Linked DNA regions of Homo sapiens. The protein of the gene in region 1 purifies or fractionates together with the protein of each later gene. This does not show direct contact. Each region holds a gene or a part of one and is shown on either strand. Other genes may lie near its edges.

Region 1 (7,000 bases):
CCAAGATTCTCTACTTTTTCACCCACGAACACTGACTGTAGTGTGAAATCACAGCCCAAATATGTTAATTCATTAAATTAGGCATTCATTCCCAGAGTGCAAATTCCTCAGGTCAGAATTTAGGCCCTCCAAGGCCGGGGGTGGTGGCTCATGCCTGTAATCCCAGCACTTTGGGAGGCTGAGGGGGGCAGACTGGTTGAGCCCAGAAGTTCATGACCAGCCTGAGCAACATGGCAAAACCCTGTCTTTACAAAAAATTAAAAAATTAGCCAGGTGTGGTGGCACGCATCTGTAATCCCAGCTACTCAGGAGGCTGAAGTAAGAGAGTCACTTGAGCCCAGGAGATGGAGGGTGAGCCAAGAGTGCACCACTGCGCTCCAGCCTGGGTGACAGAGTGAGACTGTCTCAGAAAAAAAAAGTTAGGCTAATCCCTTCAGATCTGGATTTAATAGTCTTATTTTGCTCCTTCAAGAGTTAACCAACCACATTTCCCAAACACATCACCATCTGTTGCTTCTATGTTTTTGCTCATCTCTTCTAGCCAGAGATCTTCTTCCTCACTTCCCTCTATGAGAACCTCAACACTCCTTCAAAGTCTAGGTCAAATGCCACATCTTCCACGAATCTCACAGAAAAGAAAGAAAAATGGATGTAATATAGAGTTGCACAAAGAAACATCATGAATTTCAAAAGCACATATTGTTAAAAAAAAAACAAAAACAAAACCCAAACCATTGCTATTTTGGCATTTTCTTGTAGGTAGGGATACATATAAGAAAATAGAAATAAATGATATCTTGATCCTATTTTCTTGACTTAAAAAAAAGAAGCAAGGTCATCACCCAAAAACAATAATGGGGAATAAGGTATTAGAGGCTTCAGAGAGGAAAGTTACAAAACAGTAGCGTAGAAGAGAGGGAAGGAGGATGGTCTAAGGAAATGCAGCAGGACAGCACTTGAGGTTAGTGGTCTTGAATCGAGAGTGAGACCAGTCACCATGCTCCTGTTTTTCTTTAGTTACATTCAGCTGTGACAGTCAGGCTGTGAGTAGGTAGAGAATTGGAGTAACCAGAGTTGGAGTTTGGCAGATTGAAGGAGCCAGAAAGTTTAGGGCATGTGCAAAAGAGCAACGATAGTGATCAACTATGGGGTCTAAGTTGGTAAGAAGGAACTGACAATGTTGGGAGGTATGGATGAGGGACAGTGAAAAACAGTAGAATCAATATAGCTGAGGTTCCACGGAAATTGGAGAATTATTGCAGCTGGAGTTACTACATAGAGATAGTGGTCTGAGTGCGGAATACTCAAAATGAAGAGTATGAAGGGTTCCAGTAATAGAAAAGACAAAACCCAGGATGCGGGTGCATGGGAGCAAATGGTGAGGAAGAATGAAGGAAAGTATCACTGCAGGAAGAGAGCTCAAGGGTCTCTGACTCTACCTGAATAACTACTTCAAATTCCAAATACACACAATAGTTACATTTATAATTTCTGACAAGAAAAGAAGAAGAAATTGAGATGTTTCTTAACCTTTCTCAAATGGGGTTCTGTCAAAGAAAATAACTTAAGTAACTATTCTCTCAATTATACCAATGATGAAAAATAGCTAGAACCATTCTACATGAACAGGAGATAAGTCATTTCATTATATGCAATGATTTGTTTGGAAACTCATTCTCTCATGAAACCCTGGGTGGGAAAAGTAGAAAGGTCTCAGAATAAAAGAGGTAGGATTTTTTAAAACCTTTTTCCTAAATGATACATTCATTTCATCTGGATAGCAGTTTTCAACGTGCAAAGTACTTGTACATGCATAGCTCATACAATGCTAACAACGACCAGGCGGATAAGCAGGCAAGATATGACACAAGGAGGCTGGATGCAGTGGCTCACGCCCGTAATCCCAGCACTTTGGGAGCCCAAGGTGGGTGGATCATGAGGTCAGGAGTTCGAGAGCAGCCTGGTCAACATGGTGAAACTCCATCTCTACTAAAAATACAAAAATTAGCCGGGTGTGGTGGAGTGCACCTGTAATCCCAGCTACTGGGGAGGCTGAGGCAGGAGAATTGCTTAAACCCAGGAGGTGGTGGCTGCAGTGAGCCGAGATCGCACCACTGCACTCCAGTCTGGGCAACAGAGCAAGACTCCATCTCAAAAAAAAAAAAAAAAAAAGACACAAGGCAACATACAAGATAAGCAGCCAAGGTATAATTCAGCTATAATTGCAATTCTTATTTTATTGATGAGGCAAGAGGCAGATATGTTAAGTGACAGAAATGAAATATAGGTTTCAGGCTTCTCATCTGGGACATAATTGACCCTTCCCTAGAACTTCAAGTTTCAGCACTGAGTGTTCATTGTGAAGTGTGCCCTTTTGCAATTCTTTTCCACACAATATCCTCCTCCTGCATTCTACTGCACGTGTATTTGATTCTCCACAAGACTTTAAACACCTGGGAGACAAGGACAGTGTGTTTTTAATAATATTTTTGTATCTAAAACTTAAATATATTAATGGAAAAAAGGAAGCTAGGAAGAAAAATGTAAAGACACTTGAACTTTGTAGAATGTAAACACTGTATGTCTTTAGGATTTAAAGTAGTTATTCAAGCAGAGTCGGAGACTAAATAATTGGATTCTGGAAACTGTTTCATGAGGAAAATTTGATGGTGCTGTTAGTTTTGGACAGAAAATATTAAAAGGAAACATGAATACTATTTCTAAATATCTGAAGTTATCACACAAAAGGGAGCATTTCACGTTCTTCTGAAGGGCAGAAAAAGGTATCAGCAAATAGAAGTTGTAGAATCTCCCAGGCAAAAGCTCTCTAACTAAAATAAAGGTCTTTCCTCCCCCAGGCAGTGACCATCATTAAAGGATCAGGTAATTCCAAAGAACACACAGCATTTACAGTGGAGGGATCAGACTGTAGTTGACTGATGTCATGCTATTATCATAGATCTATACCCTAGTAAGCAAGAGAAACTGGGACTCTTAAAAGATGGTTACTTAGTAGAAAGTCTAGTATACCAGACTTTTGACTCAAGTTCAGTGTAATATGTGACTTAAAAAAAAAAAAAATCTCGGCCAGGCGCAGTGGCTCACGCCTGTAATCCCAGCACTTTGAGAGGCTGAGGTGGGTGGATCACCTGAGGTCAGGAGTTAGAGACCAGCCTGGCCAAGATGGAGAAACCCCGTCTCTACTAACAATACAAAAATTAGCCAAGCGTGGTGGCACGCGCCTGTAGTCCCAGATACTTGGGAGGCTGAGGCAGGAGAATCACTTGAACCGGGGAGGTGGAGGCTGCAGTGAGCCAAGCCTGCACCACTACACTCCACCCTGGGTGACAAGGCAAGACTCCATCTCAAAAATAAAAAGAAAAAGAAAAAGAAAAAAGAAAAAAAACTCACTTCATTTGTACTTAAACATTAATTTTGGTTTGAGGCCAGGCGTGGTGGCTCACACCTGTAATCCCAGCACTTTGGGAGGCCGAGGCCAGAGGATCCCTTGAGGTCAGGAGTTTGAGACCAGCTTGGGCAACACAACGAAACCTTGTCTCTACTAAAAAATACAAAAATAAGCTGGGCATAGTGGCATGCACCTGTAGTCCCAGCTACTTGGGAGGCTGAGGCATGAGAATTGCTTGAACCTGGGAGCCTGGGAGGCAGAAGTTGCAGTGAGCCGAGATTGTGCCACTGCACTCCAGCCTGGGTGACAGAGGAGACACTGTCACAAAAAAAGAAAAAAATTTTGGTTTGAGCACTGCCCATTCTTTCTGGATATTCTTTTATATATAGACATAGGTATAATACATTTCATATAACTGAGAATTTATACAAAGCGTATTCTGAGTTTACTCACTTTCTCCACAATGTTTCCTTTTCTCCTTGCAATAGGAAAAAAAAAAAGAAGATGGGTTTTTTAAGTCCAATATATGTTATTTTCTTCTTTTTTGGAGTCAAAGTACATTGCCAATATGAAACTTATCAGTGGGATGAAGACTATGACCAAGAGCCAGATGATGATTACCAAACAGGATTCCCATTTCGTCAAAATGTAGACTACGGAGTTCCTTTTCATCAGTATACTTTAGGCTGTGTCAGTGAATGCTTCTGTCCAACTAACTTTCCATCATCAATGTACTGTGATAATCGCAAACTCAAGACTATCCCAAATATTCCGATGCACATTCAGCAACTCTACCTTCAGTTCAATGAAATTGAGGCTGTGACTGCAAATTCATTCATCAATGCAACTCATCTTAAAGAAATTAACCTCAGCCACAACAAAATTAAATCTCAAAAGATTGATTATGGTGTGTTTGCTAAGCTTCCAAATCTACTACAACTTCATCTAGAGCATAATAATTTAGAAGAATTTCCATTTCCTCTTCCTAAATCTCTGGAAAGACTCCTTCTTGGTTACAATGAAATCTCCAAACTGCAGACAAATGCTATGGATGGGCTAGTAAACTTGACCATGCTTGATCTCTGTTATAATTATCTTCATGATTCTCTGCTAAAAGACAAAATCTTTGCCAAAATGGAAAAACTAATGCAGCTCAACCTCTGCAGTAACAGATTAGAATCAATGCCTCCTGGTTTGCCTTCTTCACTTATGTATCTGTCTTTAGAAAATAATTCAATTTCTTCTATACCCGAAAAATACTTCGACAAACTTCCAAAACTTCATACTCTAAGAATGTCACACAACAAACTACAAGACATCCCATATAATATTTTTAATCTTCCCAACATTGTAGAACTCAGTGTTGGACACAACAAATTGAAGCAAGCATTCTATATTCCAAGAAATTTGGAACACCTATACCTACAAAATAATGAAATAGAAAGTATGTAGACTTTTATTGTGTTTTGAAGAGAGAAAGAATGGAATCCTGATCTTTTAAAGAAAAAAATATTCAATAAGCTATGCTTTAGACATTGCTGAAAATAGTTGTTTTGAAGTTGCTTAAGGGAATGGCAGAAATCTGCCCCAGAGAAATGTGTGCTATTCAGTTTATAGTCCTTTTTATTAAATTTTATTGCCTTAAATATTGAGAAATAGGCTGGGCGTGGTGGCTCATGCCTGTAATCAGAGCACTTTGGGAGGCTAAGGCGGGTGGGGTGGATCACTTGAGGCCAGGAGTTCGAGATCAGCCTGGTCAATATAGTGAAGTCCCATCTCTACCAAAAATAGAAAAATTAGCCAGGCATGGTGGCATGTGCCTGTACTCCCAGCTACTTAAGAGGCCGAGGCATGAGAGTTGCTTGAACCCAGGAATCGGAGGTTGCAGTGAGCTGAGATCATGCCACTGCTTTCTGGCCTGGATGACAGAGCAAAACTCTGTCTTAAAAAAAAAAAAAATAAAATAAATAAATAAATAAATAAATAAATAAATATATATATATACACACATATATAATATATTTATTTATATATAAAAAATATATATTCTCTTTTATATATATAACTGATAATTTATACATATATATATAACTGACAATTTATACAGAGCGTATTCTGAGTTTACTCACTTTCTCCACAATGTTTCCTTTTCTCCTTGCAACAGGAAAAAAAAAAAGAAAAAAAGAAGAAATATATAATTTTATATATATATATTTTTTTATATATATGTATAAATTGTCAGTTTTATATATGTATATATATAAAAGAGAGAAATAATAGAGTACATGAAGAAATATGAGTATCCTAAGTAGTGGGATTGTAGATAATTTTTTTTTGAGATTGTTCTACTAGGAATTTATTAATCAGAAAAGCCAATGAAGCCATATATATTTTGTTAATATAAAACTCATAATTTAATTTTCTTTTTATTATTTGATTAATATAAAAAGGAAACCTAATTCAATTTATAAATATTTTAATTAACAGAATTATATCCCATACAATATAAAATCTAACATAGAATTATGGCTATAACTATGGATTATACTATAATACAAGATTAATTTTTAATTTATTTCTTTCAGAGATGAATCTTACAGTGATGTGTCCTTCTATTGACCCACTACATTACCACCATTTAACATACATTCGTGTGGACCAAAATAAACTAAAAGAACCAATAAGCTCATACATCTTCTTCTGCTTCCCTCATATACACACTATTTATTATGGTGAACAACGAAGCACTAATGGTCAAACAATACAACTAAAGACACAAGTTTTCAGGAGATTTCCAGATGATGATGATGAAAGTGAAGATCACGATGATCCTGACAATGCTCATGAGAGCCCAGAACAAGAAGGAGCAGAAGGGCACTTTGACCTTCATTATTATGAAAATCAAGAATAGCAAGAAACTATATAGGTATACACTTACGACTTCACAAAACCTATACTTAATATAGTAAATCTAAGTAAACATGTATTACTCAAAGTAATATATTTAGAATTATGTATTAGTATAAGATCAGAATTGAATTTAAGTTGTTGGTGACATCTGCATCATTTCATAGGATTAGAACTTACTCAAAATAATGTAAATCTTTAAAAATATAAATTAGAATGACAAGTGGGAATCATAAATTAAACGTTAATGGTTTCTTATGCTCTTTTTAAATATAGAAATATCATGTTAAAGAAAGTGAGTGTATCATTTCTATTAACAGTAATTTTTCTAAAAATGAGGAAGGAAGTAGCATTAGCAGTAAAGACCCACAGGCCATGACCTTTTTGATCACTCTGAGGACAATATTTAAATGACAGGAAGGTATATTAATGTAACAAGCATTCATTTAAGGAATAGACCATTTTCTCTGACCTCTTCTTCAGGAAAGCTTTCACACTGGTATTTGTGATCTCACCATTATGACATCCATCCCCCTAGCTCACCACATAGCACATAGAATGATATTTTTGATTTGTAAGAGGCCATCCAGGTACTAAGGACCCAAGGCATACAGATTCACAAAATTAACTAATCTTTTTGCCTCAGAATACCAAAACAACAAAATTATAAAGCTGTATTTGGAC
Region 2 (10,630 bases), on another chromosome or scaffold:
AAATTACACCAAAGGGCAATTTATTTACTGGTATTCACAAATAATTAAATACAAATATAAATCACTACTTTAAAAACCTAATCACCCAAAAGAGATACTTGTATATATGCACAAAGATCTATTTACATCAGATATTTATTGGGCACTATTCTAAGAGTTCTCTGTATGTTCATTCATTTAATCCTATAGCACACTATCAAGCAGACACTATTATCTTCATTTTGAAAATGAGGAAACTGAAGAATAGAAAAGTTGAGTAATTTGCCCAAAGTTACACAGCTAATGAAGCAGAGTTGAGATTCAAACTTAAAGTATCAATGTTCAACTTCTACACTATTCTGCATCCACAAGAATATTCACTGCAGCATTGTTTGCAACAGGAAAAAGCTGGAAACAACCCACCTTAACCTACTATCCCATTGCAGGCTTCCAAAGTTTCAGGCAGGCCCAACTGAACCTTATATGTAAATGAAGTTTGGAGTACTGAATAGGACTTGACATATTAATTATGAAAATTAGACTTTTTATAACTTGAAGTGACATGGAGTCTTTGAACCTGCACAAGGTCAAGGAAAGGATCAGTCCCAGAAAAGAGGACGTAAGCAATGGTCTGGATGAAGCCTTGAGGAGCAAATACCTATTCCACTTCCCAGCATAGAGAAAAAAATCGGTTTTCACTCCAGATAAGGAGAGGACTAAAGAGTCAAGAGTATGTGCTAAGAAGCAACTGAATGATGGACAATAAAATGATGGACAATGATGGCTGAAGTCTAGGAGAGGACTGATAGTATGAATAGAGAGGATATTCTGGAATCAATGGATGAGAAGTCTTGGTAAGTCTATAGCATTAAACTTGAATAAAATGGGTGGAGGTGGGTAAAGAGTAGAAGAGAATGCTCAACATCAAGATTTCAAAAGTGCTGTAGTTCTAGTAATGACAAAGATCAGGGTCTAGCCTGTAATCAGGGAAGAGTTAAGAAATGTTCACAGGAGACAAAGAGGTTAAGGAGGTAAGAGGTTAAGGTTTTGGATGACTCATCCACACAGGTATCAAAATCACTAAGAGTGCTAACAGACAAAGAGCATAAGAGGAAGGTTATAATCTACGAACTCCAATCGTCAATGAATGAGACGGTGATTACATCAATAGGAAAGGTTAGAGACATGAACCTCAAAGCATTCAGCTGGAGAAGGGAGTATTAATGGTCTGGATGAGACAACAGAGAGCAAGAACAACGCCCACCCATTTCCTGGTGCTAAAGTATGTAGGATATAAAGGAAAAAAGTTGCCATGTCACTTAAGAAGGTTATGGAGAAGGTAGTAAACTCAGGAAACTGCCCAGTTTCAGATAAGGCAAGACGGCGAATATTCTAAGAAGTTGATGATACAAGAGAGTTTCCTGCTCACAGAGGAGTTCTACAGGGTATGGCAGAAACACATAGGAATGACAGAAGAAGACTTAGATCAGAATTTGGCAATGTACTGAATAGTGACTGCATGAAAGTCTAAAATATAACAAACAACTGGAGACAGAGAACTCTACAGTAACTGAGGTAGAGACAGGGCTGTGAAGCCTGGTTTGATTATCAGTGCCAATGTCTTAGAAGAAGGTAGACAAGCCCTACTGCTTACTCCTAAAGTTTCCTGAGGTCCCCTCAGGCCTCCTTCAGTGTAAGTTTGCAGTTATGAAACAGCAAGTCCTTGAGACTTCACTTAAACTTAAAGCTGTGTTCTGTATGTGTATATATTTATAATTGCAGAGAATAAAGTTTGGAAAAATTTACTCCGAATTGTTAACCAAGATTATCTCTAGGATAAGATTTAGAATTTAGAGCCTGGCACGGTGGCTCCCAGCACTTTGGGAGGCCAAGGTAGACAGACTGCTTGAGCCCAGAATTTCGAGACCAGCCTGAGCAACATGGTGAAACCACGTCCCTAAAAAAATACAAAAAATTAGCCAGGCAAGGCCGGGCGCGGTGGCTCATGCCTGTAATCCCAGCACTTTGGGAGGCCGAGGTGGGCGGATCACAAGGTCAGGAGATCGAAACCATCCTGGCTAACACGGTGAAACCCCGTTTCTACTAAAAATACAAAAAATTAGCTGGGTGTGGTGGCAGGTGCCTGTAATCCCAGCTACTCGGGAGGCTGGGGCAGGAGAATGGTGTGAACCCGGGAGGCCGAGCTTGCAGTGAGCCGAGACCGCGCCACTGCACTCCAACCTGGGCGACAGAGTGAGACTCTGTCTCAAAAAAAAAAAAAAGAAAAATTTTGGCCAGGCAACGTGCTGTGCGCCTGTGGCCCAGCTACTCAGGAGGCTGAGGTGGGAGGATGACCTGAGCCTGGAAAGTTGAGGCTGCAGTGAGCCAGGATCATGCCACTGCACTCCAGCCTAGGTGACAAAGTGAGACTCTGTCTCAAAAATAAAAATAAAAAGATTAAGAATTTAGGAGAAAGCAAAAAGGAACAAGTAAGGAGAACTTTTATTTCTTTTTCTTTTTAAATGAAAATACTACGGCCGCCCCTACTGGGAAGTGAGGAGCCCCTCTGCCCGGCCAGCCGCCCCGTCCGGGAGGGAGGTGGGGGGGTCAGCCCCCTGCCCGGCCGGCCGCCCCGTCCGGGAGGTGAGGGGCGCCTCTGCCCGGCCGCCCCTACTGGGAAGTGAGGAGCCCCTCTGCCCGGCCACCACCCCGTCTGGGAGGTGTGCCCAACAGCTCATTGAGAACGGGCCAGGATGACAATGGCGGCTTTATGGAATAGAAAGGCGGGAAAGGTGGGGAAAAGATTGAGAAATCGGATGGTTGCCGTGTCTGTGTAGAAAGAAGTAGACATGGGAGACTTTTCATTTTGTTCTGCACTAAGAAAAATTCTTCTGCCTTGGGATCCTGTTGATCTGTGACCTTACCCCCAACCCTGTGCTCTCTGAAACATGTGCTGTGTCCACTCAGGGTTAAATGGATTAAGGGCGGTGCAAGATGTGCTTTGTTAAACAGATGCTTGAAGGCAGCATGCTCGTTAAGAGTCATCACCAATCCCTGATCTCAAGTAATCAGGGACACAAACACTGCGGAAGGCCGCAGGGTCCTCTGCCTAGGAAAACCAGAGACCTTTGTTCACTTGTTTATCTGCTGACCTTCCCTCCACTATTGTCCCATGACCCTGCCAAATCCCCCTCTGTGAGAAACACCCAAGAATTATCAATAAAAAAATAAATTAAAAAAAAAAAAAAAAAAAGAAAATACTACTTTAAAAATATTTAAACAAACAAAAACAGACAAATAAACTATCTGTTGCCTTAAGTTTCCATTTTTTTAAATTTGTACTACCTAAAATTTGTAAAAATCGGCCAGGCACAGCAGCTCACACCTGTAATCCCAGAACTTTGGGAGGCCGAGGCGAGGGGATCACTTGGGTCAGGTGTTCGAAACCAACCTGGCCAACATGGTGAAACCCCATCTCTACTAAAAATACAAAAATTAGCCGGGTGTGGTGGCACACACCTGTAGTCCCAGCTACTTGGGAGGCTGAGGCAGGGGGACTGTCAAGAGGCAGAGGTTGCAGTGAGCTGAGATCATTGCACCCCAGCCTGGGCATCAGAATGGGGCTCTGTCTCAAAATAAAATAAAATAAAATAAAATTTGTAAAAATCATCCCAAGATTAAAGGTAAAGAAAGCATCCTGATATGGCTACCTAGTAAATTCTTTCATATTTTAATTTATGTACCTATTACCTAGGGTCAAAGGCCTTTTTCCCTAAATGTATAACTAAAAATTTAGGGCATTTAAATACATGCAAGAAAAGAGAAAACACTACCAGCTTTAAAAAGGCAAACAGACCAAATGACCATCTGATATGTAAATCTCTAACCATCACAATATAACATTTAGTTAAAAACTGAACCATTAATTCCACATTTCAGAAAGAATCTAAACATCTTGACTATGGGCACAAGAGGGAGCAATTTAGCTTTGCATGAGGAGGCTGTATTTACAATTCACTCAGAGAAACTAATTCAGAGAAAAGTTGCCTTTATTCAGGGAAAACTCCACACTACTTTCACAGGAGGCTTATCCTGGTAGCAATTAATAATCTAATAACACAAAGAAATCTTGGAAAGGACAGAAACAAATAGGAACACAGCCTATGAAGAAAGCATCCATGATTAAAAACCAACATACGAATACAGTAATGTAAAATGTCACTACTGTATTTAAAGATACGTCAATTCTTTACTATTTCCCTACAAATAAGAAAAAATTAAAGCATTGAAATTTCAAAAGACAACTGGGTTACTTAAAACTGTATAGACATAAATAGTTAAAAACTATATATATATATATATATATATATATATATATTTTTTTTTTTTTTTTTTTTTTTTTTTTTTTTTTTTGAGACGGCATCTCACTCTGTCACCCAGGATGGAGAGCAGTGGTGCAATCTTGGCTCGCTGCAACCTCTGCCTCCCATGTTCAAGCGATTCTTATGCCTCAGCCACCTGGGTAGCTGGGATTACAGGCATGCGCCACCACGCCCAGCAAATTTTTGTATTTTTAGTAGAGACGGGGTTTCACCATGTTGGCCAGGCTGGTCTCAAACTCCTGACCTCAAATGATCTGTCCACCTCGGCCTCCCAGAGTGCTGGGATTACAGGCACGAGCCACCACACCCAGCTAAAAGTTAACAACTTAATATTCTTTAATTTATGCCAATCACCACCCAAAGAAAACATTTCCATAGGAACCACAATTTTAATCAAATTTAGATCTCTTATATTATCTGTACTTTTAAAAGAAAAGGTTTTGCAATACAATTAAATGTCAAAAATCCAATGTTCCTGTATTTGAGAATGGAAGTGAACTCCAGAGATTAAAATTTATCTTTGGGAAAGCACCTATTCTTGAATTAGTGGACATACAAAGGCAGACTCCAGAGAATAAAGAACTAAATATGAATAATAAGACTGTAATAGGACTACTTGAACAAAACTCAGGAAACACAAGTTAGAAGACAAAAAAAAAAACTGATTAGTTTGACTACATCAGAGTTCTCGTCTACTGAGAACACCCAGGAAAAAAATTAATCAGATGGCAAATTAAAATAAGGTATTTAAAAGTCTAAAACCAGCTGAGCACAGTGGCTCACGCCTGTAATACCAGCACTTTGGGAGGCGAGGCAGGGGGATCACCTGAGGTCGGGAGTTCGAGACCAGCCTGACCAACATGGAGAAACCCCGTCTCTACTAAAAATACAAAATTAGCCAGGCGTGGTGGTGGGTGCCTGTAATCCCAGCTACTCAGAAGGCTGAGGCAGGACAATCGCTTGAACCTGGGAAGCAGAGATTGTGGTGAGCCAAGATCGCGCCATGGCACTCCAGCCTGGGCAACAAGAGCGAAACTCCGTCTCAAAAAAAATAAAATAAAATAAAATAAAAGTCTAAAACCAACAAAGTTTAATGTCTAGAATATATAAGAAACTCCTAAAAAGCAAAAAGAAAAAAAAATTGGAAACCCCAATGGAAAATAGACAAATAATATAAACAAAATCCATAAAAAAAGAAACCCAAAAGGCTAACAACAAGCTTATGAAGAAATGTTCAAACTTGAGTTACCAGAGAAATGCAAAGTAAAAGACACAACTTTATAGAAGTTTGCCTGGCAAAAATTACAAAGCTGGATCATACCAACCGTCACTGCACAAGTAGAATTATCGGAGTCCCCATACTCATCTGGGGGAAATGTACAGACTGGAGGGGAATCAAATTTGGTATTTGTATATCCTATCATTTAGTAATTTTGGCTGGACATGGTGACTTTCATCTGTAACCCCAGCACTTTGGGAGGCCAAGGCGGGAGCATCACTTGAGCCCAGGAGTTTGAGACCAGCCTGGACAAGATAGCAAAAACCTGTCTCTACAAAAAAATGTTTAAAAACACACCAAGCATGGTGGCTTACACCTGCAATTCCAGCACTTTGGGAGGCCAAGGTGGGTGAATTGCTTGAGCTCAGGAGTTCGAGACCAACCTCGGTAACATGACAAAACCCCAACTCTACAAAAAATACAAAAATTAGCTGGGTGTGTCAGCATGCACCTGTGGTCCCAGCTACTCCGGAGGCTGAGGTGGGAAGATCACTTGAGCCCAGAAGGCAGAGGTTGCAGGGAGCCAAGATTGTGCCACTGCACTCCAGCCTGGGTGACAAAGCAAGACCCTGTTTCATAAATAAATAATTAGCCAGGCATGGTGGCGTGTGCACCCAGCTCCTCAGGAGGCTAAGGTGGGAGGATCACTTGAGCCTAAAAGTTTGAGGCTGCAGTGAGCTATGATATGGCCACTGCACTCAGCCTGGGCAACAGGGTGACACTCTGTCTCTTTAAAAAAAAACAAAAATAAATAAATAATTACTAATTTTGCTCCTAGCTACAAATACCCAAGAAATTCTTACTCACATAGAAGTTCAACCCAGCTTTGCTGCAGCAGCAGAGAGTTGGATACAATCTACATATCCATTTACTTAGGGTAATGAGCAGTAAAATGGGTTGGTGGCAATCAGGTGTAACAAATAACATGTATACATAGCAACAAGGATAAATCTTAAAAACATTGTGTCATGGGAGATAAAAAACAGAATAATACCATAACATCTATGCAAATTTAAAATACCTGCATACCAACAACATACATATTTTACAAGAGTACACACTTTACACAGACATTTACAAAGAACATACATTAAATACATTAGGATTGTCCATGGAGAGGGGAAAGGAAATAAGAATAGGAAATTTTGAAATGGAAATAAATAAATACAGTGAAAAGCTCAGCCTAGTACAGATCTACTATAATAAGCCGTGAACTAAGGAATATGAATAACTCAGTCCTCTGAACTTGAGATCCCACAAAAGTACGAGGAATATGAATTAAGCTCACATGTACAGTTGCCAGTATCTCTAGGATTTTCTCAAAACAAAGTAGTTAAAACCTGTTCCAAGATAACAATTTATACAATATGACTCCTGAATATTTAATTCCATAGATTGTTAGTCAATTTTAATCCCTAGAATTGAAAATTCATCACAATAATGTAGAGCAATTTAAATGGGGAGAGGGAGTGTTCTTTTAAACCTATAAATTGGAATATTATAAATACACAAAGAAAGTTCATAATATTGAAAGGAAAACTCATTCCTTCACACTAAAGGAACTTAAGCTAAATTTATCCTGAAATATCCTTAGTGATCAACTTTGCAGTAGGGGCTTAAAAAAATCCTTGGCTCTGAGACTTGAAAGGAGCTAAGTCTCAGGAAACTTCTCTGTAATGATAGAGGGGAAAAACCAAGGGTTAGGAATCAGGCATACTTCTGACAAGAGTATAGTCTATACCACTTACAAAGGCTATGAAATTAAACTGAGGCCATGTGTACACATAGATATACCCTAGCCTCCATATTTCTAAGTCTCTTAGAGGCTTACTACTTATTCCAATCATTCTGTCTAAACTGTCTTAACCGTAGATCATGTTATACATACATATCAAAAAAAAAAAAACAAAAAACTTTTTTTTGAGATGGAGTCTTGCTCTTGTTGACCAGGCTGGAGTGCAGTGGTGCGATCTCAGCTCACTGCAACCTCCGCCTCCTAGGTTCAAGTGATTCTCCTGCCTCAGCCTCCCGAGTAGCTGGGATTACAGGTGCTCACCACCACACCCAGCTGATTTTTTTTGTATTTTTGGTAGAGACGGGATTTCACCATGTTGCCCAGGCTGGTCTTGAACTCCTGACCTCAGGTGATCCACGCCTCAGCTGGGATTACAAGCATGAGCCACCGTGCCTGGCCTACTAAAAAAAAAATTATTAACTACTAGAAGTTGGGAACTGTCTTTGAATTCCCCTAGAAGTGTCATACAGAGAGAACACACTGATGAATGAGAACACACTGATGAATGGGGGCAGCCTAGAACTGATGGAGCTATACAACTATTCCTGATGAATACCCTGAGAACCTACCAGGATCGCTAAGGTCAGTGGTATACCTGCCAACATTTCTTAAACCCTCTTCTACCCAGTATGCCCTTCCCCACCCCAGTAACCACCCACTACCTTTCCCACCTTCCCTAGTCTCCCATCCCTACCTTCACTGCCTAGCTAACTTTTATTCTTTCTCCAAACTCCTGCTAAGATGTCATCTCATTCAGGAAGCTTGTCCTATCCATCCCCTCCCTTCAGAGAGTTAACATATCCTTCCTTTGTTCTAACTCTGTACCTTATACTTGTTTCTACCATTCAATTTATCACGTATTGATATATCATAATATTTTTACATGTCTATCTACCTTACTAGACTATGAAATGGACTAAGACACTTACCTTCTAAAAGGGAATGATCTCTAACAGCTTCTGCAGCTAATACAGACTTCCCACAGCCTGCCATTCCATGTATGGTGACCCATCCTGGTTCACCTTTCAATTTGGAGAGCTTCTGCTGAATTGCATTCACCAGCTTCTTCCTTGTGACAAAAACAACTGGCCTCTGTGGTACTCCACCTTCACACAGGACTGTCCTTACTAAAATCCAAAACAAAACAAGCATGAATGAATAGAACTTTGGAATAATTACTGAAGTAATACCATAAAAAACAAAGAGCAAAGCTGAGGCTTAGCCTGAAAATTTCCAAGAGAAGTTAAGAAAATGTGGCTAGCATATTAACTTCAATTTTCTGATTTCTCAGACAACAGAGAGCAAAGACAAACATATATCCTTCAAGATGACTAAAGAAAATGGAAGTTTCTATCTATATCTGCTTTACTCACCCAATTATTTCCTGACTTTTCATTCCCTCTCATATTGAAGACTGGGAAGGCAAGTGTAAAAGGAAGAACATTTATGGAATACCTTTCAAGAACATATATTTCTAAAGATTCTTATTTTTTCCTATAAACTCTATAAACACATAGAACTGGAAAATAAACAAGGGCCTATAAATTGTCTTATTGTCTCTAAAAATTAGGGTAGACATATTATTATCTCAGCAGTACAGTTCACTGGGCAAGAAGAAAAGTTGAGAGTTAATGTGGATGCAAATAAAAAATATTTAAATTGAAAACATCACTACAATTTTTTTAACATGCAGTTTTCAGTGAACTGGTCACACTCTCTTCAAAAGATTACATCTACAATAAGACAAACCCAAAGCAATTTTGATAGCAAAGTGATAGAAGGTATAATGGATACAAACCATACGAAGTTATTCCACTAACTGAATCTTTACCACTGGAAGAAGAGACAACAGGAATGCCATCATGGAGAAGGGCAGCAAGATCTTTATATCCTTCATGTAGTAGAGCATTGTAGAATGATACGTAGGAATCATTATCTTTTTTAAGTATCATTTTAATCAGCATAGCTGCTCTTTGCTGTTGAGTGGGCTAAAAAAAATTAAGTAGTTTAGTATACAACAATGAATATGTATGCAACATAAAGTAGTGGAGACCAGTACAAGTTCTGAAATTCTAAAAATTTTTAAGGAAGTGTGGACTGCTTCAGAGAGCTTTACCTCATTTCTTACTTTTTCCTCTTCTGATATTGTTAAAAATCCATCACTAATCATGTGATCCATGATGTAGGATGTCTTGATGTCCTTTTCCAGAGCTTCTCTATGTTGAAGCAAACAATTTCGAGCTTTTGCATCCATCTTCCCTCAGATCTTTCTCTCTCTGAGCTGTCAACCATGAGCTACAGCCAAAACACCAAAATATTTGTCAGGCCAATAAAAATATGAAAAGATACATAATCTCACTAATAAACAAGAAACGTAAAAAGAACAAAACTGATTTTTTTTCCTTGGCAAAAATTTTTAAATGGACAAAACCCAGTGCTTGGAAAGGTATGAGAAAATGGCCATTCTTATGCACTAATTGGGGAAACTAGAAAATGAATGCAATTTTTCTGGAAAGCAGTAAGATATGGAATTGTTTAAAATAAGCTTTCTCTCTAACCCAGAAATCCCATTTCTAAGGATTTACTTCAAGGAGACATTCAAATACATATGTAAAAATATCCACAAGGAGAATTAATGAGTTTCCAATCAGGTGTGGTAGCTCAAGCCTATAATCCCAGCACATTGGGAGGCTAGAGTAAAAAATAAAAAGAAAAAAGAATTAATGGAGGATGTTTCAGTGATGAACGCAACCTAAATGTCCATCATTCTGAATATAGATTTTAAAAATTAGGGTATGTATATAAAATGGAATATTATGCAGCCATTCAAAATTATGACACATATCTCCATGTATTGACATGGAAAGATGTTCATAATACTGTTGCTGAAAAAAAAAAAAAAAAAAAACAGAAACATGATCCCACATACAACACATAACGTGGGGGCCGGGCGCAGTGGCTCATGCCTGTAATCCCAGCACTTTGGGAGGCCGAGGCGGGTGGATCACGAGGTCAGGAATTCAAGACCAGCCTGGCCAAGATGGTGAAACCCTGTCTCTACTAAAAATACAAAATTAGCCAGATGCAGTGGCAGGTGCCTGTAATCCCAGCTGCTCGGGAGGCTGAAGCAAGAGAACTGCTTGAACCAGGGCGGCAGAGGTTGCAGTGAGCCGAGACCACTCTACTGTACTCCAG

Evidence for each region.
Region 2: the proteins of OMD (region 1) and APAF1 purify together in Homo sapiens (affinity purification with mass spectrometry; 2 studies listed by BioGRID and IntAct, with this or other methods). This does not show direct contact.

Annotation. Positions count from the first base shown.
Region 1 is NC_000009.12:92,414,472-92,421,471, reverse strand, and holds part of OMD (osteomodulin precursor), read left to right. Parts: intron 1-3,897; 5' UTR 3,898-3,913; coding exon 3,914-4,853; intron 4,854-5,994; coding exon 5,995-6,320; 3' UTR 6,321-7,000.
Region 2 is NC_000012.12:98,647,419-98,658,048, reverse strand, and holds part of APAF1 (apoptotic protease-activating factor 1), read right to left. Parts: intron 9,731-10,630; 5' UTR 9,690-9,730; coding exon 9,552-9,689; intron 9,424-9,551; coding exon 9,234-9,423; intron 8,563-9,233; coding exon 8,365-8,562; intron 1-8,364. UniProt on the Homo sapiens protein: Oligomeric Apaf-1 mediates the cytochrome c-dependent autocatalytic activation of pro-caspase-9 (Apaf-3), leading to the activation of caspase-3 and apoptosis. This activation requires ATP. Isoform 6 is less effective in inducing apoptosis.